Linked DNA regions of Homo sapiens. The protein of the gene in region 3 interacts with the protein of the main gene of each other region in a biochemical or structural test. Each region holds a gene or a part of one and is shown on either strand. Other genes may lie near its edges.

What was found.
Region 1: of the proteins of RNF4 (region 3) and TOP2B, one has a biochemical effect on the other in vitro, tested with the Homo sapiens proteins (one study listed by BioGRID).
Region 2: the proteins of RNF4 (region 3) and UBE2E2 form a complex in vitro, tested with the Homo sapiens proteins (one study listed by BioGRID).
Region 4: the proteins of RNF4 (region 3) and UBE2N form a complex in vitro, tested with the Homo sapiens proteins (2 studies listed by BioGRID, with this or other methods).
Region 5: the proteins of RNF4 (region 3) and PATZ1 form a complex in vitro, tested with the Homo sapiens proteins (one study listed by BioGRID).
Region 6: the proteins of RNF4 (region 3) and UBE2E3 form a complex in vitro, tested with the Homo sapiens proteins (one study listed by BioGRID).
Region 7: of the proteins of RNF4 (region 3) and MECP2, one has a biochemical effect on the other in vitro, tested with the Homo sapiens proteins (one study listed by BioGRID).

The regions. Positions count from the first base shown.
Region 1 is NC_000003.12:25,626,908-25,630,407, forward strand, and holds part of TOP2B (DNA topoisomerase 2-beta), read right to left. Parts: coding exon 3,405-3,500; intron 3,248-3,404; coding exon 3,122-3,247; intron 2,239-3,121; coding exon 2,128-2,238; intron 2,046-2,127; coding exon 1,940-2,045; intron 390-1,939; coding exon 280-389; intron 1-279. UniProt on the Homo sapiens protein: Key decatenating enzyme that alters DNA topology by binding to two double-stranded DNA molecules, generating a double-stranded break in one of the strands, passing the intact strand through the broken strand, and religating the broken strand.
Region 2 is NC_000003.12:23,587,827-23,591,326, reverse strand, and holds part of UBE2E2 (ubiquitin-conjugating enzyme E2 E2), read right to left. Parts: intron 1,594-3,500; coding exon 1,496-1,593; 3' UTR 1-1,495.
Region 3 is NC_000004.12:2,475,606-2,479,105, reverse strand, and holds part of RNF4 (E3 ubiquitin-protein ligase RNF4), read right to left. Parts: intron 1-3,500. UniProt on the Homo sapiens protein: E3 ubiquitin-protein ligase which binds polysumoylated chains covalently attached to proteins and mediates 'Lys-6'-, 'Lys-11'-, 'Lys-48'- and 'Lys-63'-linked polyubiquitination of those substrates and their subsequent targeting to the proteasome for degradation.
Region 4 is NC_000012.12:93,405,184-93,408,065, forward strand, and holds the end of UBE2N (ubiquitin-conjugating enzyme E2 N), read right to left. Parts: 3' UTR 501-2,882; downstream 1-500. UniProt on the Homo sapiens protein: The UBE2V1-UBE2N and UBE2V2-UBE2N heterodimers catalyze the synthesis of non-canonical 'Lys-63'-linked polyubiquitin chains. This type of polyubiquitination does not lead to protein degradation by the proteasome.
Region 5 is NC_000022.11:31,332,847-31,336,346, reverse strand, and holds part of PATZ1 (POZ-, AT hook-, and zinc finger-containing protein 1 isoform long C), read left to right. Parts: intron 1-483; coding exon 484-655; intron 656-930; exon of another isoform or gene 931-998; intron 999-3,500. UniProt on the Homo sapiens protein: Transcriptional regulator that plays a role in many biological processes such as embryogenesis, senescence, T-cell development or neurogenesis. Interacts with the TP53 protein to control genes that are important in proliferation and in the DNA-damage response.
Region 6 is NC_000002.12:180,987,105-180,990,604, reverse strand, and holds part of UBE2E3 (ubiquitin-conjugating enzyme E2 E3), read right to left. Parts: intron 3,268-3,500; coding exon of another isoform or gene 3,211-3,267; intron 1-3,210. UniProt on the Homo sapiens protein: Accepts ubiquitin from the E1 complex and catalyzes its covalent attachment to other proteins. In vitro catalyzes 'Lys-11'- and 'Lys-48'-, as well as 'Lys-63'-linked polyubiquitination.
Region 7 is NC_000023.11:154,035,218-154,038,717, forward strand, and holds part of MECP2 (methyl-CpG-binding protein 2), read right to left. Parts: intron 1,645-3,500; exon of another isoform or gene 1-1,644. UniProt on the Homo sapiens protein: Chromosomal protein that binds to methylated DNA. It can bind specifically to a single methyl-CpG pair. It is not influenced by sequences flanking the methyl-CpGs.

The DNA.
Region 1 (3,500 bases), on a different chromosome or scaffold from region 3:
AAATTTTATTACAAAATTAAAATGTATAAGTGGCCAATAACTAATTCTTAATTTCTGGAAAATTAGGTTATTTTACAATATTTTAATCAAAAACACATTTAAACTAAGGTCTTTCAATTAAAGAAGTTTATACAAGCACAGCATCATCTGGGGGAAAAATTAAAATTAACTAGCTTGAGCATTCAAAAGAGACTTATCATAGGGAACCAGGACTGGGAGGAAAGGAATAGAAGGTAGGGGGATGGCTAACAAAAGCTTTTAAAAAATTAACTTAATTACCAAGGTAATGGCAGCATCATCTTCAGGACCAGCATATCTAAACAAGATGCGATGCCTTTCCATATCAGCAAAATATTCCTTTGCTTCTTTAGCTGTACTAGTACCCAATCCTGCACAATTTTAAAAATAAAAGTGAGTCATGAATATCAATGTCTGTTTAAAACCATCAAGTAAAAAGCTGGTGGAAAAGTTGTAATAGATGGATCAAGCTGGCAACACCTATACTAAGTGATCAATCTTAATAAGCAACTAAAGACAAAGTAGACATTAGATGCTTCCTGATGAAAGCACACAACGCTACCTATGAAATGTTTTTGCCAAACAAATGTAACCCAAATCTGATCACGCCTCTGATTTAACCATCAGTTAACAGAAAATAAGGGCAAAGGAAAATACTATATATTAAATGTAACTAGAGGAATATAATTAACAAAATCCAGAATGTGGAATATTACACAGAACAAACAACCCAACTTCTTTAACAAATAAATTACAAGGAAAAAATATAAAAAGAGAAATGCTATATTAATAAACTTATCAACCAAATGCAATGTGTGGACCTTACTTGGATCCTGACTTTGGAAAAAAACAAACAAACTCAGGCCAAGCATGGTGGCTCATGCCTGTAATCCCAGCACTTTGGGAGGCTGAGGTGGGCGGATCACTTAAGGCCGGGACTTCTAGACCACCCTGGCCAACACAGCAAAACCCCACCCATACTACAAATAGCCAGGCATAGTGGCACATGCCTGTAATCTCAGCTACTTGGGTGGCTGAAGCATGAGAATCACTTGAACACATGAGGAAGAGAGCCGAGATCCCACCACTGCACTCCAGCCTGGGCAACAGAGCAAGACTCTATCTCAAAAAAATAAAAACAATTAAAAAAAAACGAAATAAAAATAAAAATAAAAAACTCTAAAAATAAACAATTTTAATACAGTCCAGGGGAATTTTAACACTGGCTGGGTATTTAACATTATTTAAAAAAAAAAAAAAAAAAAGGGAGCCAGGCATGGTGGCTCACACCTGTAATCCCAATACTTTGGGAGGCCAAGGTGGGTGGATGGCTTGAACTCAGGAGTCCAAGACCAGCCTGGGCAACAAACCAAAACCCCATCTCTACAAAAATACAAAAATTAGCTGGGTGTGGTGGCACACACCTGTAGTCCCAGCTACTTGCGGGGGCTGAGGCAAGAGGATCATTTGAGCCCGGAAAGTCAAGGCGGCAGTGAGCTGTGTTCATGCTACTGCACTCCAGCCTGGGTGACAAAGCAAGACCCTGTCTCAACAATAGGATATTAAAGAAGGTTATGATAATGGTATTATGGGTTACTTAAAAAAATTCTTTCAGAAATACATACTGAAGTAGTTATAGGTGAAATACTAGACTATAATGTCTGGAAGTTTTTTCAAACTAATGGAGTGGCAATAAAGGAGGTTTACAGGAAACAAGACTAGCCATTGAAATGGTGATCCCATTCAATGAAATCTATTACACTATTCTACTTGCATACATTTTTCTATAACAATACTTTAAAATCAGTGATAGCTATTTTCGAAGTCTAAAATAGTCAAACTTTCAAGTCATCTTTTAGATTGCTTTCATAAGAATACATTTATATCAGTATTTAAAATCTAAGTATTTTAAAATACAAACCTTTATAGTACTTTATTTTCCAGGCTTTCTGGTTTTCTATATGTTTTTTCCATTCGTCAAATTCAGGAATACTGTAGAAGGAAAGTTCCTGCTTATTTTTGCTTGCCTTAAATTAATTAAAAAACAAAATTAGTTTTTCTGCTACCCTTTAAGACAACAATATAAAAATATATTAATGCAAAGAGTACCTTTACAATAGGAGTAATGAACTCTTCAAGAAAACCATGCTTCAAAAGTGATGGCCAATTGTGATGGATGAAATTAATAAGCAGGCCTTTTATGTGAGAACCATCTTGATCCTAAATAAATGTTAGTAAAGTAAAAAATGTTGTAATACTTTTATAAAATGATTACTTATATAAACAAATTTTAAAACGTGAATGCAAAAAACCAAAATTCTGAATTTTAGAAATGCATTTTACAAAAGCTATTAAGATGATCATACTAAATTTTTTAATACACAAATAAAGAATATAGTAGTAATAGACTGAATCTGTCATTATAAAAATATATTATCATTTTATCTGTTTTATAGTTTCCCCAGATTTCACTAAAAGAATGATTTAAGGATAGAAAATACATAAAATAAAACATGGTTATAATGCCACCTTAATGGGCAATGGTAGGGAAACCCAGGTAATACAGATATTCACAAGTCTTCCCTAGATAAAAAATTGGAAAATTTCTGCTTAAAACTATATATTAATAGCAGTTTTTTCAGTTGCAGATTTTCTCTACAAATACTTTAGAGTGCATAAGAGAAAACAGTTGAATGCATCTGAAATTCTTCCTTTTCAATTTTCTAGTTCTTTCTCGATTACCATCATTTTACTATTTAAGTCCTGGTATTTGTGCATTCCAAATCATGCCATCATGTATAAATATTAACCCTTATCATTAATCTTTCTTACTTGTTAATTCCATAATTTTGTTCCTACTTGTAGGTAGGCTGCTATAGTACCACACTGTATTATATTCTCCTTAGTTACCCCAAAAATCAGACAATGTAAAATGTGCTTCATAAAAATGTTTCCACTAAATGACGTGGTTTTTTCATTTTTTCCTCCTGATGTATAATCACTTTCAGTTATACCATCTTCGGGCAAGTCTCATAAAACAAATATTAAAGGGAGAATCTGAAGAAGACATGAATTTGAAATATGTGGTAACTTTAAAACCAACCTGATCGGTCATAATCATAATCTTTCCATAGCGTAAGGTTTTCAGAGATTCTGCATCATCGTAACTTTTCTTATATTGTAGACCAACTATTTTAATAATATTATTTATTTCAGCATTTTCCATGATCTGTTCAAAAAGGAAAAGCACTGAGAGTAGTTTGAAGTGTTGAAATATACGAGTCAGAAATTACATTTAAAAATTCGAGAAGTTTAGTAAAGTATTAGAAATGTCATATGTATGTGTGCATGTGTGTATACACATATATATACACACACATACATACCTGTTTATGAGAAGCTTCCCGTACATTAAGAATTTTGCCCCTGAGTGGAAAAACTCCGTATCTGTCTCGTCCAATCACACCTAATCCAGACACAGC
Region 2 (3,500 bases), on a different chromosome or scaffold from region 3:
ACTTATGCTTATAAATCCTGCTTTTCAGCAGTGAAGGTGTTAATGGTTCCTTAAATGAGACCAAGAGTATGGTAGGGTCTGTAACTGTATGGTGCAGCAGGAGTAGGAGTTTCCACTACGCTTTGTTACACTAATAACCCTGAATTATCAATCAGCAAGTCAGCGTGTTTTAGAAACTACACCACCCACGTTTCCTCTGCCTCCTATAGCTGCACACTAAAATAGCCTGAAGGTGAAGCCAGACAGACACCCTTGTCATTGAATGGGCTGACCGTGACCAATACAGTTGAGTTTACTTCTTTTGCTAAAATCATGGAGAAAAAAGAGCAGCAACAACAACAACAACAACAACAAAAATGAACAATACAAAGCTTGAGGGCAATCACTGTAACAATTTTGAGAGAAATAAAGTTGAAAGTGGCTGAACACAATGATTAGCTCAGACTTCACTTTCACAAGAAGGCTATTTTTGGAGTTACATATTTTAATTGTTGATAAAGAAGGCTGTAACAGAAAGAATGCCCAGTCAATATGTAAAATGATAGCAATTTACTATAACAACCATAAAATCATCAGGCTACTGACAGCTGGAGAAATTCCACATGCTAAGCAACTCAACTCCAAAGAAATATTAGAGGTTTGAGATGAAAAATACACTTGAACCTGTAATTGAATTAGACAAGCCTCACTGCACGTAGGGCTACAGCGGTCACCAGGACACAAAGCAAATGTCGGGTTACCAGAAGTGCAGTTATCAGCCACAGTGATTTATTGAGTGCTTTAATAATACAAGTGTACATCAACTGATCCACAGTCAAAAGTGGCAGGTCCCTAAGAAATTTACAAGCACTTTAAGTAAATCAAAATACATATTATTTTGTTCAATCCAACAGTCTTCTGCGGGAGGGACAGAAGGCTAGTGATAAACAGAGTCTCAGTAATGCACAGTGATTCTGATTGAAGCTTTTGTACAAAAACTTGTTCCCAGTAGCATGCACCCACCAATAAAGACTTCAGTACAAAAAATTAACCCTAAGCACTACATTTAAGTAGAAACGAGATATAATTCTGAATGTGTTTTCCCAAAGATCACATAAAAGAAAAAAAAATCAAAATCAAATAAACAACAACAAAAAAAACAAAACCACACAGTAATACAAAGCTTTGTAAGAAAGCTCTTACTATTACAGCTCCAACATTGTTTGCACTGAAAACAAAAGTTCCCATCTATGATGAGGTGGGAAAAAATCCCAAATCTTTCAAGTTAACAGAAATCAACAAGGGAATAAAATGAGAGATAAAAGAGAGCGTGGGAGAGAGGAAGGGGGGCAGGAAGAACTGGGATGGGAAGATGGACAACATACCATCACAAAATGGTTCCAAATTTAATAAAAATAGGAAAATAAGAACCGAGGTCTGGAGGGGTGGGCAGGGCTACCGATGCACTTGGTGAATGTGCTTGCACAGGTCCCGCGGGGCGGCAGGCAGCAGGCCCCTATGTGGCGTACCGCTTGGTCCACTGTCTGGCCATCCGGTCATGCTCTGCTCTGTTGGTCATGTACTGTGTGGCGATGCTGCCCACCAGAGGGTCAGCTGCAAGGAAAGCAGAGTTGGGAGTCAGTAAATACCAGCACTGTGGGGGAAGAAGTGTTCAGAAAGCTGGCAAGGAGTGGGAGGGTAGGAGATGAGAAGCTGCTGTTCTAACCTGGACCACCATTGCTGCGGCTGAGCCAGTCACCTGCTGCTGACAGACTACATTTCACACCAGCTGCCCCAAGAGTCACCTATCTGTATTTTACTGATAGCTCTTGTCATATTTCTTGACAAGTCTTATTCTCTTTCCCTGTACCCACCACATACTTCTCACCTTGCTCCCCTCGTATTGGTTTTTTTTTTTTTCTTTTGAGACAGGGTGTTGCTCTGTCACTCAGGCTAGAGTGCAGTGGCATGATCACAGCTCAGTGTAGCCTTGACCTCCTGGGATCAAGCAATCCTCCTCCTGCCTCAGCCTCCTGAGTAGCTGGGACCACAGGTGTGTGCAACAACACCTGGCTAATTTTCAAATTTTTTTTTGTAATTTTGGGGGTCTCACTATGTTGTCCAGGATAGTCTCAAACTCCTGGGCTCAAGTTATCCTCCTGCCTCAGCCTCCCAAAGTGCTGGGATTACAGGTGTGAGATGCCTGTCTTCAAGTAGATATTTCACGGAGAAAATGCAGGTGGGCTGTGGGCAGGGGACTCATGGGCTCTTGATGAGCTCTCCTGGGAAGACGTTTGGCGGTCTGGACAACTCCTTACCCTAGGCTAGCACCACAGGCAGGTGGCATTCTCCTGCCAGATTACCTTATCTGAGGAGACGCCAGAGTCTGAGCTGGACAGTCAAAAGAGGGGAGAGATGGTCCACTTCTTCCTCAAAATTTGGTAACATCCAACCTACATAGCTCATTATTACAAAAATACTAATAGATGTTAATAATAGCTAACACTCACCATGACTAACCATGTCCTAAAACTCTAATATGTTAATGACATGGATTTCTAAGGAGCTGACACAGGAGGAAATTGGAGCATAAGGAGGCTGAGTCTCTTGCCCAACGTGGAGAAAGGGGTGGAGCAGGGCTTGGAGCCAGAGTTCACCCTCTTAACTAACAGGGTGCTGTTAGTTAACAGGGTGCTTAACTTAACAGGGTGCTGGGAGATAGCTCTCTATCCAGAATATTGATTGGGTCAACGTTTAATTAAAAAAATTGGGGCACGGTGGCTCATGCTTGTAATATTAGCACTTTAAGAGGCTGAGGCAGCAGGATCGCTTGAGTCCAGGAGTTTGAGTCTGTAGTGAGCTATGATCGTGCCACCACATACCAGCCTGGGTGACAGAGTGAGACCCTCTTTAAAAAAAAAGACAAAAAAAAAAAAACAAAAAAACAAAAAAACAAAAAGCAAAGCAATTAAAAAAAAAGTAACTTAGGTTCCTAAAGATCCCAGATTCTACTCTTTTCCCTCCAATTCTCTAATTTCACTCTTTCCCCGATTTATATTTCCCCTATTTTTGGTATTGGGAATTTGGGTATATTAGAGCAGTCAGGTAAGGAGGATCCACTAGGGAAAATGAGAAAAATCATCAAAAGCTAATGTTTGGTAGGAAAAAAATAGTAGAGAATATGGAACTACGTCTGTGGCCCAACACCACCGGCAACTTGGGAAGATCCTGAGACTAACCTTGTAAGGCACTCATGGTCATATGTTCTCAATATGAAAGGTATAATAGAAACACCACTTTTTAACCTATCTGCTGAAGCTCATGATAACAAAGCCTTTGAAAGCCTGCTCAACAAGACTTGCTTAAGTTTTCCTGGAATTGTGTAAATCTCGTAATAATTATTCCAGGGAGAAGCCAGTTTCCTACATTCACTTATATCACAATTAGTAGACTACTTAGTATGTGGGTTTGTTCGAAACGTTTGCCTCTCTGCCTACTCTTTGTGATTCTTCTTCATTTTC
Region 3 (3,500 bases):
CAGAGCAGTCCAAATCTCAAAGCTCCAAAATGATCTCCTTTGACTCCATGTCTCACATCCAGGTCACGCTGATCCAAGAGGTGAGTTCCCATGGCCTTAGGCAGCTCCACCCCTGTGGCTTTGCAGAGTACAGCCTCCCTCCCGGCTGTTTTCACTGGGTGGTGTTGAGTGTCTGCAGCTTTTCCAGGTGTACAGGGCAAGCTGTCAGTGGATCTATCATTCTGGGGTGTGGAGGACAGTGGCCCTCTTCCCACAGCTCTACCAGGTGGTGCTCCAGTAGGGACTCTGCTTGGGGGCTCCAACCCCACATTTCCCTTCCACACTGCCCTAGCGGAGGTTCTCCATGAGTGTCCCGCCCCTGCAGCAAACTTCTGCCTGGGCATCCAGGTGTTTCCATGCATCCTCTGAAATCTAGTGGAGGTTCCCAAACCCTCATTGTTGACTTCTGCGCACTCGCAGGCTCAACACCATGTGGAAGCTGCCAAGGTTTGGGGCCTGCACCTTCTGAAACCACAGCCTGAGTTCTACTCTATGTTGGCCCCTTTTGGCCACAGCTGAGACGGCTGGAACGCAGGGCACCAGGCCCCTAGGCTGCACACAGCAGGGGAACCCTGGGCCCAGCCCAGGAAACCATATTTTCCTCCTGGGCATCTGGGCCTATGATGGGAGGGGCTGCCATGAAGGCCTGTGACATGCCCTGGAGACATTTCCCCCCACTGTCTTGGGGATTAACGTTTGGCTCCCTGTTACTTATGCAAATCTCTGCAGCTGGCTTTAATTTCCCCTCAGAAAATGGAATTTTATTTTCTAGCACATTGACAGGAGGCTGCAAATTTTCCAAACTTTTATGCTCTGCTTCCCTTATAAAACTGAATGCCTTTAACTGTACCCAAGTCATCTCTTGAATGCTTTGCTGCTTAGAAATTTATTCTGCCAGATACCCTAAATCATCTTTCTCAAGTTCAAAGTTCCACAAATCTCTAGGGCAGGGGCAAAATGCGGCTAGTCTCTTTGCTGAAACATAACAGGAGTGACCCTTGCTCCAGTTCCCAACAAGTTCCTCATCTCCATCTGAGACCATCTCAGCCTGGATTTCATTGTCCATATCCTTATCAACATTTTGGTCAAAGCCATTCAACAAGTCTCTAGCGAGTTCCAAACTTTCCCACATTTTCCTGTCTTCTTCTGAGCCCTCCAAACTGTTCCAATCCCTGCCTGCTACCCAGTTGCAAAGCTGTTTCCAAATTTTCAGGTATCTTTTCAGCAGCATCGCACTCTACTGGTACCAACTTACTGTACCAGTATGTTTTCACGATGCTAATAAAGACATACCTGAGACTGGGCAATTTACAAAAGCAAGAAGTTTACAAAAGCCAGTTCCAAATGGCCGGGGAGGCTTCACAATCATGGCGGAAGGCAAGGAGAAGCAAGTAAGTCATGCCTTACATAGATGGCAGCAGGCAAAGAGAGCTTGTGTAGGGAAACTCCCCCTTATAAAAGCATCAGATCTCTTTTGTTTTTTTAGATTAAGTCTACTCTGTTGTCCAAGCTGGAGTGCAGTGGCATGATCTCGGCTCACTGTAATCTCCACCTCCTGGGTTCAAGCAATTCTCCTGCCTCAGCCTCCCAAGTAGCTGGAACTACAGGCATGTACCACCATGTCCAGCTAATTTTTGTATTTTTAGTAGAGACAGGGTTTCACTATGTTGGCCACACTCATCTTGAACTCCTAACCTCGTGATCCGCCCGCCTTGGCCTCCCAAAGTGCTGGGATTACAGGCATCAGCCACCGCCCCCGACCTAAAGCATCAGATCTCTTGAGACTTATTCACCATCATGAGAACAGCATGGGAAAGACCTGCCCCCAAGATTCAATTGCCTCCCACTGGGTCCCTCCCACAACATGTAGGAATTCAATGTGAGATTTGGGTGGGGACACAGCCAAACCATATCAGCACCTGTATTCCCATTTACTTGGGACACTGAGGCAAGAGGATTAATTTAGCTTAAAGTTTGAGGCTGTAGGCAGGGCATGGTGGCTCATGCTTATAATCCCAGCACTTTGGGAGGCTGAGGCGGGCAGATCACCTGAAGTCAGGAGTTCAAGACCAGGCTGGCCAACATAGTGAAACCCTGTCTCTAATAAAAATACAAAAATGAGCTAGACGTGGTGCTGCCCACCTGTAATCCCAGCTACTCGGGAGGCTGAGACAGGTGAATCACTTGAACCCAGGAGGTGGAGGTTGAAGTGAGTTGAGAAAGAACAAGATTCTGTCTTTAAAAAAAAAAAAAAGTTTTAGGCTGTACTGTGCTATATAATTGCACCTGCAAATAGCCACTGCACTCCTGCCCGGGAAACATAGGAAGACAACCTTCTCTTAAATTAAAAAAAAAAAAAAAAGAAAGAAAGAAAAGGGCTGGACGTGGTGGCTCACACCTGTAATCCCAGCACTTTGGGAGGCCGAGGTGGGTGGATCACAAGGTCAGGAGTTCGAGACAGGCTGGCCAACATGGTGAAACCCCATCTCTAGTAAAGATACAAAAAATTAGCCAGCCGTGGTGGCACATGCCTGTAATCCCAGGTCCTTAGGAGGCTGAGGCAGGAGAATTGCTTGAACCCGGGAGGCAGAGGTTGCAGTGCTGAGATCGTGCCACTGTACTCCAGCCTGGGTGACAGAGCAAGACTCCGTCTCAAAAAACAAACAAAAAACAAAAAAACACAGATGATCATGATGGGAGAATAGGAGAGAACATTTCTACCTGAGGCATTTTCAACTTTTCAACTTGCAAGAGTAGGAGGCGAGAACCAACACTGGAAGACATCAAGAAGGTACTTACAAGGGAAGCAAATTTTAGTGCAGGTAACACAGAATGCTGCCATATTTAGGAGCAGAATTTAGCAGTAGTTTGGCTAAAGTAAGAGGTGAGGTGTGGCAGACAGGGAAATGCCTAGGCCCTAGGACAACTTCCCTTAGCTGGTGAGAGGAGAAAACTTAGGAAAAATAACTTTGAGGAATACAATACAGTTACTGAGAATCAATAAATTTTCTTGAGGATAATTATCAGACTCCTCTGCGGTGAAAGCAAAAATAAAGATACTATTTTGTTTTTACTATTTGAAGTTTCTAGAAACATTGGCCATGTGCTTTCCCACCACACAAAAAAAGCAGATGACATAACAAAGCCTAACAAAAGGAACAAAGGTAGGAGTCAGGGGTGGGGTGAAGTTTCGAGCTCTGCTTACTAATTGTGTGACCTTGGGCAAGTGACCCTGATCTCCCAGTGCCTCAGGAAGAGTAAAATGGGGCTAACTACAACAACTATCTTATAGAGTGGTTCTGTAAGAGAGTAAGAAGTAGGGAATCACTCAACCATAGATATTAAATCATGAGTCTGGAGTCTGAGACCAGCCTGGACAAAAGGGCAAGACCCAGTCTACAAAACTTTGTTAAAAATTAGCCAGGTGTGGGCCAGGCGAGGTGGCTCACGCCTGTAATCCC
Region 4 (2,882 bases), on a different chromosome or scaffold from region 3:
TCTGATATCTACTCCCGACCTTAAGCCAGGAGACTTTGTAAACTTACTAGGTTATAATAAAACTTAAGAACTATCGATATTTACTAATCTACATCATGGAACTATTTCAAAAGCAGTCATATGGTAAGATGGATCAGGAGTCTTTAAAAATAAAACTGAGAAAGAAAAATCATGTGATCAATTCAGTAGTAGAGACAGAGGTTGGTATCAAGTCTATGTTCATACACTTACCAGTGCCACCCAGCAGGGCCATACAAGACACATGAAATGAGATCAGCTCAAGGGTGACAAGATGAAACTGGGAGAGGGCCGGGGAGACCCGAACTCTTAATATTGGATTCCACACAAGAGGAAAAATTTTAGTCCAGCTCCCAGCATGGCAGCTAATGGCAAGTTAGTACCATAAAGCCAACTCTTGGAATATACCTGACTTCCACGATAAAATGGAGATGAGTGCAGGGGTGAGTGTATAGTTAAGAAAACAAACAATATATTACTAGTCCAGGTGGTAGATGACAGATTTTTATTATTTACACTTCTCTCAAATTATTACATTCAGCATGTTTTGCTTTTTATGTTATTTAAAGTATAAACCCTCATATAATTCCCTAAGATGGGTGGCATGCCAAGTAGCTAAATGAAATATCATCCCAGCCCAAAAGTACTTATTCGAATGAAATATTACATTTTTCTTAAATAAAGCAATAAATTAGGTACCCTATTATCATGGTATTTTCTTTTTTGGCCAGCTTTTCTAGATAAGGTTGTATTGCTACTGCAACTAACAAAAAAGATGTGGCAGGGCTGGGCACGGTGGCTCACGCCTGTAATCCCAGCACTTTGGGAGGCCGAGGCGGGCAGATCACGAGGTCAGGAGATGGAGACCATCCTGGCCCAACATGGTGAAACCCCGTCTCTACTAAAAATACAAAAAATTAGCCAGGTGTGGTGGCAGGTGTCTGTAGTCCCAGCTCCTCAGGAGGCTGAGGCAGGAGAATCGCTTGAACGCGGGAGGCAGAACCTGCAGTGAGCCAAGATCATGCCACAGCACTCCAGCCTAAACTACAGAGCTAGAAAGTGGCTAGAGCAGCCAAAAAAAAAAAAAAAAAAAAAAAAAAAAAAGGTTCCTGAACCATTCAACAGAAAAATGAGGCCTATTCCTATCATTTCCTCGATCCAATTTAGTTCCACTTAGGTCACTGTGTTTATAATGTCTTTTAGGACAGATTTCCTTCCCCATTCTCCATCAAACAACCATAGCACCTGTGACTTTTATCTGTTGGTTTGTATTTAATCTTATTTTTAAGTGCTTCTTTGAAATTGTTTTACAAGTACATTCTTGGTCTAGAGTAAGGTTCTATATAGTTGGCCCTCCATATCCATGGGTTCCACTTCCGTGGATTCAAACAACCAGACAAAATATTCCAAAAAACATTGTGTCTGTAGTCAACATGTATATTTTTGTCATTATTCCTTAAACAATAGTGTAACTATTTACATAGCACTTACATTATAATAGGTATTATAAGTAATCTAAATATTAACATAAGCGGGAGGATTTGTGTAGATTGTATGCATATACAACATCATTTTATTCCAGAGACTTGAGCATCTGCGAATTTGGATATCCAAAGGAAGTCCTAGAACCAGTTCCCGACAAATACCAAGAGATGACTTTACTTTAGACCTAAGATCTTGCTAGACAGCCTTTGAGAGGATGAAGGATAACTAGAGCAGAAGCAAATCGCAGCGAAGTAGACTACAACAATCAAGTCAAAAAACATAAAGCTCCTATCAACACCTCAAGATTTTAGAAAAGCCTCTTAACGGGCAATTTTCTTTTAAATAAAGACTGGGTCCCACTATGTTAGCCAGGCTGGTCACAAACTCCTGGACTCAAGTGATCCTCCTGCCTTGGCCTCCTAAAGTGCTGGGATTACAGGCATGAGCCACTGTGCCCGGCCTGGGCAGTCGATTTTCAGGAAGCCACTTAATGTTCAGATTCTTTTCTTCTCTCCCAGGACTTTGCAGATGCTGCTGTTCCCTCTGCCTGGAGATGTTCATCTGGCCTGAATCCAAAAGTCTGTCCAAGTTACTTCTCTTTTCCATGACAGAGTTACAACTATTTGTCTGTCCCCCTTCCCCATTAGAGTATATGGTCCCCAAAGGAAAGCCCCATGCCATTCACTCACCACCTAATCATCCCCAACAACTAGTGGGCAAACATGAAACACTTTTGTTGAATAATGTGTTTCCTTTAGCCCAGGGATTACAAAGTCAAAGGCTTACAAGGGGGAAGGACTAGCAGGTGTGCTCGGAGGGGACTCTAGCCAACTGGAGAGTAACTGGTGAGAAGACAATGACATGCTCTTAGGGTGTCTGCTACTCAGATCCTCTCAGTTAAGTCCCGTGCACAAAGGTGGGTCAGGTCTACTGTTGCCAGATCTTCAGATCATTCAAAAGTTACCCGAATTCTGGATTTTCATGCAAATCTCCCAATTTTTAAAAATGTTGGCATCAAATTCAGAATGTTTTAACCAGCCACACTGTGTGGGCCAGGGAAAACAGGCCCAAAGGCCAGGTGAAGCTGCAGTTTTCAACTGCTGCCTTGGCCTCTCCCAGAGCCCCTTAAGTCCTAAGAAGGCTCAGTCAACACACTGGCACTCGTTTCATCCCACTGGTTGAGAAAGCAAGTCTTAGCAAAGTAATGGGGGAGTCTTACCAAAACTGCAAAGGAAAAAAATATGATACCATGAAATTAGAAATTCACTGCATTTGAAATGAAAATGACTTATTTCTGTACTTCTATAACTCACAAATTTAGCAGACATCATTTAGACATTTTTGTAGTGCAACAGATTTAAATCTGGAATTTCATGGTT
Region 5 (3,500 bases), on a different chromosome or scaffold from region 3:
ACTTTTGAATAAAATGAACAAATATAATTCTTTGTATAAAACTAGGGGAAACCCAGGGATACAGAACAGGAAGGCTGGTTTATATGCCAATAACTCATCTGTAAATTCATGTAAATGTAATTCTGTGCATTATAGCTAATGCACCTAAAGTCAATTCTTAATGTCTAAGGATGAGCAAATGTGTAACTCTTCATTGTGTAGAGGGGTATAGAGCTTAGCTTGCCATGTCCTGGGTACATTTCCAGTAGTCATTTAGTTAGTACCAGTGATTCCCACTCAAGTGTCCCGTAAGGAGGTACCATGGGAAATAAGAGCAGCCTCTTGGCATTCTGGGTAGGGAGCCTGAGCCAAACTCTAAAGCTGTCTTTATAAAGGGAGGTCATGTGATGGCCAGAAATTGCCTTTGCTTCATGGTGCACTTGGTGGGGAGTCAGGTGTGGGGTGCTGGGTTTCACATCATCCCATTTTCTTTTCTGCCTTCAGACCTGCAATGCTTCTTTTGCCACCCGAGACCGTCTGCGCTCCCACCTGGCCTGTCATGAAGACAAGGTGCCCTGCCAGGTGTGTGGGAAGTACTTGCGGGCAGCATACATGGCAGACCACCTGAAGAAGCACAGCGAGGGGCCCAGCAACTTCTGCAGTATCTGTAACCGAGGTAATCTGCCCACTGTTTCCTCACTTCCAGAGGATGGGCCTGAGCGTGTATGGGAGGCCTAGGGGTGTCTCAATCACCCTGCCTCAGACTCCACTCTTTGCACAGCCACCCCCTACTTCCCACTGAATGATAAACACCTTCATCACCCAACTAGCTATTTGCTACCTCTTCCTTCCCAAGAAGCTTGGGGTGCTTAGAATGGGAAGTCCCAGGAGACCAGCAGGTCAAAACAGAAGGAGAGAGGTTCTTCCCAAGCTTGGGCCCATAACTCTCACCTGCTACTCAGATGGCAGGATGGATGCATTTTGCAGACACCACTGAACCACTGAGGTTGGTGGGGGAGTTAGTAGGTCCCAAAGTGAGAGAAAAAGAGGTTGGTCCGGCTTGAGAGCTTTTGCTGGTTGATTCACTGGCATATGAAATTCAGCAGCCAGGGAAGGAGGTTGAGTCTGGAGATAAACAAGGAGCAGACACTTTGTAGCACAAGTAGTCAGAAGAGAGCCCAAACTCAGGTAGATTGTGGCCTTGAGAGAGGAAAGTGGAAGGTGCTCTGAGCAGGGCAGCATGCTTGAGGACAAGGTGGGCCTAAGTAGTGTCTAACTCTGTGGCAGTGGTGTTGTGTTGGGTGAAGTCAAGCCTGTCCCCAAGGTTCTGCCGGGTCTAGTTGGCTGTTGGAAGTGCTAGATGTTTGTGTTTTGCAAGCACAGCATCAGTGGAGGCTTGCACTGTGTCTGTGCTAAAGGAGGTTGGAGCAGCTATCTGTGAACGTGAGGATGCTTCTGCATGGTGTGCTTTGCTTTGGCCAGTGGGGAGCACTGGGATGTCCTTATCTCCTGGGGCATTCTTGCTTGTCCCAATGCTTCCGAAAGCCTGCTTAGTGGGTGCAGCACTGAACCAGGAGTCAAGAGACCCAGGGTTTAGTCCCAGCCTCTCACTAGGTGGCCTCGAGTTCTCCCATTCCCTCTCTAAGCTTGAGTTTCTTCATCTCTCAAATGGGGTTAAGAATAGCCCCCTTTCCCACCTCACAGGGCTGTTATGAGGATCCCAGGAGACAAGGTAGGTGAAAGGAGCCGCACACTTGGGAGACTCTATCCTTGCACTTTGTAACAATGTTGGGAAAGACATGCTTGTTGACACTCTGGGTTGGACCAGGCACAACACTCCTGCAGGCCTTGGCGGAATCGTTGGGTGCCTGTGCTGTGTTCATGTGCCGAGGTCCACGGTGGAAGGAGATTGCTGAGTAGCTGGGTGTTCTTGGTGTCCTGGAACTGGGTCCCTCCTTGCAGCTTCATACCTGGGGTTTGTACCACCAGGACACCTGCTGTGAAAGCAGGGAAGTAGTAGTGAAGGTCTCTTAAGCTGTCTGTTCTGTTTTCTGACATGTCATTAGAGCCCATTGCTGACAGGAGCTTCCTCCAGGTTGCAAGCGGTGGGCTTGCGCATGCAGGGAGAGTTATCAGGCTGTGGCTGACTGTCTTGACTGGGGCTTCCCCAGCCCTAGAAATAATGTCGTTTCTTGTCTTGCTTCATCCTAACCTGGCTTCCTGACAGCTCCCCCGGATAACTCAAAACCTGCTGTAACAAGCTGTTAGCAGGCATTTTGTCAAGTTTTCAATATGGAAGTTCCCAGTCTGAGAACTGGGGTCAGAGACCAGAGGTTGAAAACTGCTGAGTGGAGAAGGGTGCTCATGATAAAACTCAGAAAGCCCAGACCAGATGGTGGAGTAGGGCAGAAACTGGACAGGAGACCCAGGGCTACAGCCCTTGAAGCCCAGCTCAGGAGGAGAGAAAAACTGAGAGCAGCAGGGACAGTGGGAAAGTTGGCCCAGTAAGGAAGCAGCTGATGTGGCAAAGCCAACAACTATTGTACATCAGGATTTATTTTCCAAGGGCTAGTAAAGAGAACTTGGGCAACAGCCATAAGCTACATGACCGGAATGGAGAATCCAGAAGAGTAAACCAGAGTCTACTTTTTCTCAGAAAAGCCAAGACTGGGTCTGGATCACAGGCCAAACATCTCTGGGTTCCAGAGCCAGAGCGGGAAGTCCCTTTCCTGCAAGAAGACTAAAGAAGGTGCTGGTCCAACCCATGCTGGGTACTCAGAAAGAAGAGAAAACAATTGCAGTTTTTATCAGAAGAGAAGGAGCAGGATTCTACTCCTGGACTCATTCCTTGGGCAGAAATAGGAAGAGACAAAAAAAAAAAAAAAAAAAAAGGAAGAGGATAAAGTTCTTTCTGAGCACCAAAAACATTGAGACATTGGAATCAAAATGCAGAGAGCTCTGTGTCCTCCTTTGCCCTGCTGCCACCAAGCCTGTACCTACAGGAGGGGTTGCACGAATAAACGAATGTTCTTATCTCTGCATGTGTTCAAACAAAGGCTGAATGTCAGAACAGTTAAGATTGAATCAGGTGAACTTCCAGGTGCCCTCAGATCCTTCAATCCCAACAATTCTTAAATAGTTGACTTAAGTATCTACCTATAGATCTGTCTTTTTCAATTTTTGCCACAAAAATGACTCCTGGCTGTGAAGAATGGCAAAGAGGAAAGGCAGCCTGACTCCTGCAGCCTCACACGTGAGTCAGATGCAAGTTGAAGAGACAGATGACTCTGGCTTTGTCATACAGACATATCAGGATGTGTATGATACTATTTGTACAGGAAGATCATTTGCAGTGGAGGGAGTATTATGGCTAGAAAAGCTTGTTCCCACATTTTTGAGTTGAGGAAATCAGTTGAGTTGAACAGTGGAAAAGGGAGAAGGCCCTGGCTGATCACCATGATTTTCTTCCTTTAAAGTTTCTGTAGCAGGATCTTTGTATATATGCCTATGTGCTGGTATGG
Region 6 (3,500 bases), on a different chromosome or scaffold from region 3:
TAGCAAGTACTCAAGGTAGTCATTCCTGTGGTTTCACATAAAAAATAACACACACGTATGACAAATAATATAAGACATATGTAAACTACGCATAGAAGTAGCAGGAAGTGAAGAATCAGCTGAGGAAGGTGTAGGTGAATATATTAAGGATGCATCACTAATAAGACAGGAAAACAGTCAAAAGCAAACTATTCAAAAATTCAAGAGGCAAAGTACAGGAACAAATATCTATAGGAGGGTCTCTCAACTTCAGCACTAGACATTTTGGCCCAGATAATTCTTTATTGTGGGGGTCTGTCCTATGTATTACAGGGTATTCAGCAGTACCACTGACGTCTACCTACTAATGTCAGTGGTAGCCCCCTTCTCCTTCAGTTATGAAAAGCAAAAAATATCTCTGGGCATTACCAATTGTCGCCTAGCCTGGTGGCTGGGGAAGGGGAGGACAAAAATTGCCTCAGTTGAGAACCACTGATCAAAAGGCAAAAGAAAGGTTAAAAGTTTGAAGATGTTTCAGCTTCCAGATTCCAATTAAAATGCCCAAATATACTTACCTGTCAAAATTGGTATGTGGAAAAAAAAATCACTTTCTATTTCTCTAGATTTACAAGTGATTTTATTATGTTTTTATCTCATATTGATAGGGAAGAAGAGACTGAAAGGACAAGTTCTTCATTCTCAATCTGAATGTCCTTACACTCTATGCAAGACTTGCTGATTTTCCTGAAAAGTAAACATATCCATCTGTTGTTACAGCAACTCATTTAAGGAGAGCATAAAGTACTAATTGGTTATGAGAGGAATATGACTGGTTATGTGAGCATGTAGCTGCGAAGTAAACATATAACTTTTTTTAAAAGCACATGCTGTTTTACCCACCTTCTAATTACATTATCTGCATTGAACTTAATAGATCCTTAATAAAAATGTGAAGTTTAGTGGGAAGAATATTATTTTCAGTTGGTCACTCTTTTGGAAAATGTTTCCAGTCACACAGAGTACTGAGTATTTCTGCTACACTGGCACGTATGGAGGAAATAACTAGGCCTACTGTGAGTATCAATTTCCTCTTATAAGCAAAAACAGTAGCTAGGTAAACTTTGAATAGGTTATTAAATATTAAGTATCATAATTATGAAAAAGGTAAAGAATGTATAGGATATTTAATAAATTTTCTCTGAAGTCATTGTTTTGCCTGGAATTGCTATTTCTATGTCAATTTGAGAGACTTCAATTTATTTATTAACAGACCTTCACATGCAAAGCACCATGTGAAGTAAGGAAAAGATACAAAAATGAATGAGACAATCTCTCCATTCAAGGAACACTCGCTCTTGCAGAAAGCAGACAAATATTATAATACAGCATGAAAAAAGTACTTTATTACAGTTGTGTTGAAGAAACTATTAGCTTGTTGAAAAATAAAACGTCAATTTGCTTTGATCATAAACCATTTAAAATTATCACTAACGCCCAAGTCCCCAGAAAAACCCTCATGATTTTTGAGGTTTATGCTGATGCCAAAATGAATTTATTAACAATAAAACTAATAATACAAACTATCTGTAGATGACCACCCACGGCATAATGGGATGAAAAATACTTTGTCAGAGTAGTTCTGTATTTATCTGTTTTACAGTCGAGCTTCCAATTAAGATTTAATTTTTATAAAAAGCGGGTTCCAGGACCTTTTTTTTTGAAGAATTGAAAATAAAAGGACTAGATAACTAATGAGATACAATCTTGTAGCAAACACTAAAACAAAAACAATCAAATGTATTAAGTAAAGAAGAAAAAGCAGTCTATCTACATGTGTGAGAGAGTTTAAAACCAAGTACTCTATAAGCAACCAACAAAGCTAATATAGGGATCACATGTTATTTCAATTATTACCTGCTTTCATACGCCAATTAGAAAAAAGCTTTCAAAATTTCTCCTTAGTTCACAGACATGGAAAGAATGCTATGGGGTTAGGTAATGCAGGTAACAGCAATCCAGAATGTGAATTTTACAACTGCTGATATAATCCCATTCACAGTAAAATCACAAATTCTTCTATTTTAAAAGGGGAAAATATAATCATTACTCATCTAAAAATTGTTTATTATACTTTACTGGACAATCATAATATTCTCTATTGAATTAAATATCATTAATCTTATGCATGTTCCTTTAAAAGGAATACAATATTTGTTCATCTATGCCTGAAGTTTTTAGGCTAATTTTCTTTTTTACGCAAGTTCCTAGGAACTGCTTTTACTGACATTAAAAAACAAATTGCTTGTTATGTACTTGTACTCAATTATCTGGTGAACTGACTAAGATAAAATTACATAAGATGTCAATGCACTAGAGAAAATGCCAGCAACAGTGAGAGCACATCACTACAGGCTACACTGTCTCTCCCATTTTTATCTTGCTGTGGCCACTTTACTGACTCGATTTACACTGCTACAAAACTTAAACACATTAAGTCATTTAATCCTCACAATAACCCTATTATAAAGGGGGGTATCATTTTAATCCCCACTTTACAACTGAGGAGAAGAACCGAAATATTCCAAAATGTATCTAAGGTAATAACATAGCAAGTTAGTGACAGAGCATGGATCTGAAACCAGACAGTCTTGCTCCAGTACCAGCACTTTTCAAACCTACTTATATATACAATTCACCAGGAATCTTGTTAAATTCAAATTCTGGGTTGGGGGTTGGGGGAAGCAAGAGTCTGCATTTCTAACAACCTCATCTGTGACGCAGATGCTGACAGTCAGCAGCTCACTCTTTTAAGTAGCAAAGTTCTAGTCCGCCCTAGAAAATGATGGAAAGTGGTAGCAACCCTCAGAAGAAAGCAGAATTTATCCTCAGACAATTAGGCTAATGAGGAATCTAGAGATTATCAACTACTGGTTTAGAAACAACTGCTTCTTTTATGATTTCATTATTTTTTTATTTTTAAAGAAGAAAGTCAACGAAATCACCTGATCTCAGGTTTTGCTAGTCAATATATTAATACTATTAACTTGAAACTGTAATACATATCCCCCAATATGGCCTTTCCCACATCAAGAAACTATTTATTAATACAAATACCCCCAAATATCTCCAGTATAGATTCAATCTGAACATACACTCTTAAAATATTCGTCAGTATATTTGTGCTTCTTCCTATATGGAAAGAAATTAGGGGTTAAGTTAGAAATCCAGTACCTTTCTAAACTTTCGCTGTTTGCACAAGTGGTGACTAGGAGAGGACAAGGACACCCTCTGGGAAACAGATGGAAAGTAAATGTCTTAATAACACATCACTAAACAATTCTAGTCAACAATTCTCAATAAATACAAATAGGGAAATGCCCATAACACAATTTCCCTTGACTCTCATTGATGTATAAATTATTTATACTTTATGTAAACAGCATAAACTGAAACCAATAAATAAACATATCCCTATGTTTAGTACACTATGGCCCATGGCCCTCCAATACCTAAAACCATTT
Region 7 (3,500 bases), on a different chromosome or scaffold from region 3:
AAGGGGGGGTATTAAGGAAGGACACACCAGGAACTAATGAAATTGATTCCCTGCATGGGGTAGGGGGAAAAAGGTAAGGGTACAGGCACAGGAGTGAGGCCTAGCTGAACATGCCTCAGTGTAATTCTGACTTCTGAATCATGTAAATGTTTATATTACCCAAAATAAAATTCAAACTAAAAGTAACAAAACCTTATTACACTTAATGCAAATAAAAACAAATGAGTTCGGGCCAGGCATGGTGGCTTCAGCCTACGATCCCAGCACTTTGGGAGGCCGAGGCGGGTCGATCACCTGAGGTCAGGAGTATGAGGCTGCAGTGAGCCATGACTACATCACTGCACTCCAGCCTGAGTGACAGAGCAAGACCCTGTCTCTCTCTCTCTCTTTTTTTTTTTTTGAGACAGAGTCTTGCTAGAGTGCCATGGCGTGATCTTGGCTCACTGCAACCTCCGACTCCTGAGTTCAAGCCTTCTCCTGCCTCAGCTTCCCGAGTAGCTGGGATTACAGGTACCTGCCATCACGCCCGGCTAATTTTTGTATTTTTAGCAGAGACGGGGTTTCACCATGCTGGCCAGGTTGGTCTTGAATTCCTGACCTCAGGCGATCCACCCACCTTGGCTTCCCAAAGTGCCGGGATTACAGGCATGAGACACCACGCCTGGCCAAGACCCTGTCTCTTAAAAAAAAAAAAAAAGAAAAGAAAAAAGAAAAGAAACAAATTTAATTCTATATCAAATTGACAATATACCACAGAGAAAAGATTTATTTCAAATGACTTTTGACTACAGTGCTCTGCAAACCTGTAGTGGGACATATTCTAAGGCCAACAATAACACTCCAGGGGCAGTAAACACACTAGATTGGCTCCCAGGAGAGATATGTGATTCTGCTTCTGGGGCATCTTGTGCCAGAAAGCCCGGGGAGTGCAAGAGAAAAACAGGGAGGGCCCATGAGAGGCCTCTAGCAGTGGTCCAGGTGTGGCCCAGGGTGGGGGCAGTTGAGGATTTGGGGCTGGTCTAGGTGGTGAAGCAACAGAGCTCGCAGGTGGATTAGTGTGGGGGTGAGGGGCAAGGGTGAGTCAGGGACCATGTCCAAAGCCTGGGAAGATGGTGGTGCCACTGATTGAGAAGGAAAAGACTGAGGGGCCGGCTGGGTGCAGTGGCTCTCACCTGTAATCCCAGCACTGTGGGAGGCTGAGGCAGGTGGATCACCTGAGGTCTGGAGTTCGAGCCCAACCTGGCCAACATGGTGAAACTCCGTCTCTACTAAAAATACAAAAATGAGCCGGGCGTGGTGGCAGGTGCCTGTAAGTCCCAGCTACATGGAAGGCTGAGGGAGAAGAATCGCCTGAACCCAGGAGGCAGAGGTCGCAGTGAGCTGAGATCGCAAGACTCCGTCTCAAAAAAACAAAAACAAAAACAAAACCACTGGAGCGGCAGGGGAGCAACACCCACAGAGACAGTTATACCATCAAGGAGAGAAAACAGTTCTTCAGCTACTCGCTAGAAAGGGGGGAAACCCCGCTGTGATCAGATTCTGAGTTGGGCCTGAATGAAAATGAACTGTCTGCTTGGGGTTTTAAAGGCTTTTTATTGTGGTAAAATATACAAAACAGGTCAGGTGTGGTGGCTTACACTTGTAATCCCAGCACTTTGGGAGGTGAGGCAGGTGGATCGCTTGAGCTCAGGAGTTTGAGACCAGCCTGGGCAACATAGCAAAACCCTGTCTCTACAAAAAAAAAAAAAAAAAAAAAAAATTAGCTGGGCATGGTGGTGTGTGCCTGTAATCCTAGCTACTCGGGAGGCTGAGGCAGGAGGATCACTTGAGCCTAGGAAGTTGAGGCTGCAGTGAGCCGTTGATCATGCCACTGCACTCCTGCCTGGGCGAACAAACCAGACACATATATGTCTCAAAAAAAAATACATATATATATATATATATATATATATATATATATATATATATACACACACACACAAAACAAAGTTTACCTTTTTAACTATTTCTAAGTGTACAATGAATGAACTTTTTTTTTTTTTTTTTTGAGACGGAGTCTTGCTCTGTCACCCATGCTGGGGTGTGGTGGCGCAATCTCGGCTTACTGCATACAGGCTCTGCCTCCCTCCTGAGTTCAAGCGATTCTCCTGCCTCAGCCTCCCGAGTAGCTGAGATTACAGATGCGCACCACCACGCCCAGCTAATTTTTGTATTTTTAGTAGAGATGGGGTTTCGCCATGTTGGCCAGGCTGGTCTTGAACTCCTGACCTCAGGTGATCCACCCACCTGGGCCTCTCAAAGTGCTGGGATTATAGGTGTGAGCCACCATGCCTGGCCCTAAATGAACTTTTAAGAGCACTGAAGATGGGAAATAAAGGGTCTTTAACTCTACTGTAATATTCTAGTTCTTTCTAATGGAAATTACTTGAAGCAAATATAGTATGATGATTTTCAATTCTGTGCAATGAAAGGCACATGGGTGTTTGTTAATTTGCTGGCTGCTACTTTTATAATTAAAGACAAATTTCAAAAAACCCACAAAGAAGCCTGGATTGTGCTGGGTGTGGAGTGCAGGTAAAAATGATAAAAAACGTGGATGGAGCTGGAGTCCATTGTCTTCAGTGACACAGCTCAGACACAGAAAGTCAAATACCGTACGTTCTCACTTAGAAGCAGGAGCTGAATAGCATGTGCACATGGACAGAGTGAGGAATGGCAGACACTGGAGAGACTGGGAAGGGTGGGAGGGGGTGAGGGATGAGACATTACTTAACGGGTACAATGTCCACTATTCAGGTGATGGTTACACTGAAAGCTCAGACTTCACTACTATACAATATATCCACGCAACAAAACTGCACTTGTACCCTTTAAATTTAACAAATAAAAAACAATGATAGAAAACAGGTATTCCAAATGAGTTTACCCTTAGCCCAGAGGGCCTGCCCAGTCCCAGGGTGACCTGGGCATTTGCACACCCTCACTAAGCCTTCACTGCAGGACCCAAGGGAGGGAGGCTGGGCTAGGGTGCCAGGTGACTCCCCAAGGCTGTCCCCCAGGGGGTTTATGGTGTTTGCCGAAACACAAACTTTTTCAAAGAAACCTGCCAGGTGTGGTGGCTCATGCCTATAATCCCAGCACTTTGGGAGGCCGAGGCAGGTGGATCACCTGAGGTCAGGAGTTCGAGACCAGCCTGGCCAACATGGCGAAAACCCCATCTCTATTAAAAATACAAAAATTAGCTGGGCATGGTGGTGCATGCCTGTAATCCCAGTTACTCAGGAGGCTGAGGCAGGAGAATCACTTGAACCCAGGAGGCAGAGGTTGCAGTGAACCGAAATCGTGCCACTGCACTCCAGCCTGGGTGACAGAGTGAGACTCCATCTCAAAAACAAACAAACAAACAGAAAACAAAACAAAAAAAACCCCATACACCTCTCTTCATCCTCCCTCTAATCAGAACCCCCCACACACACACAATCTTGATTATGAGGAGAACT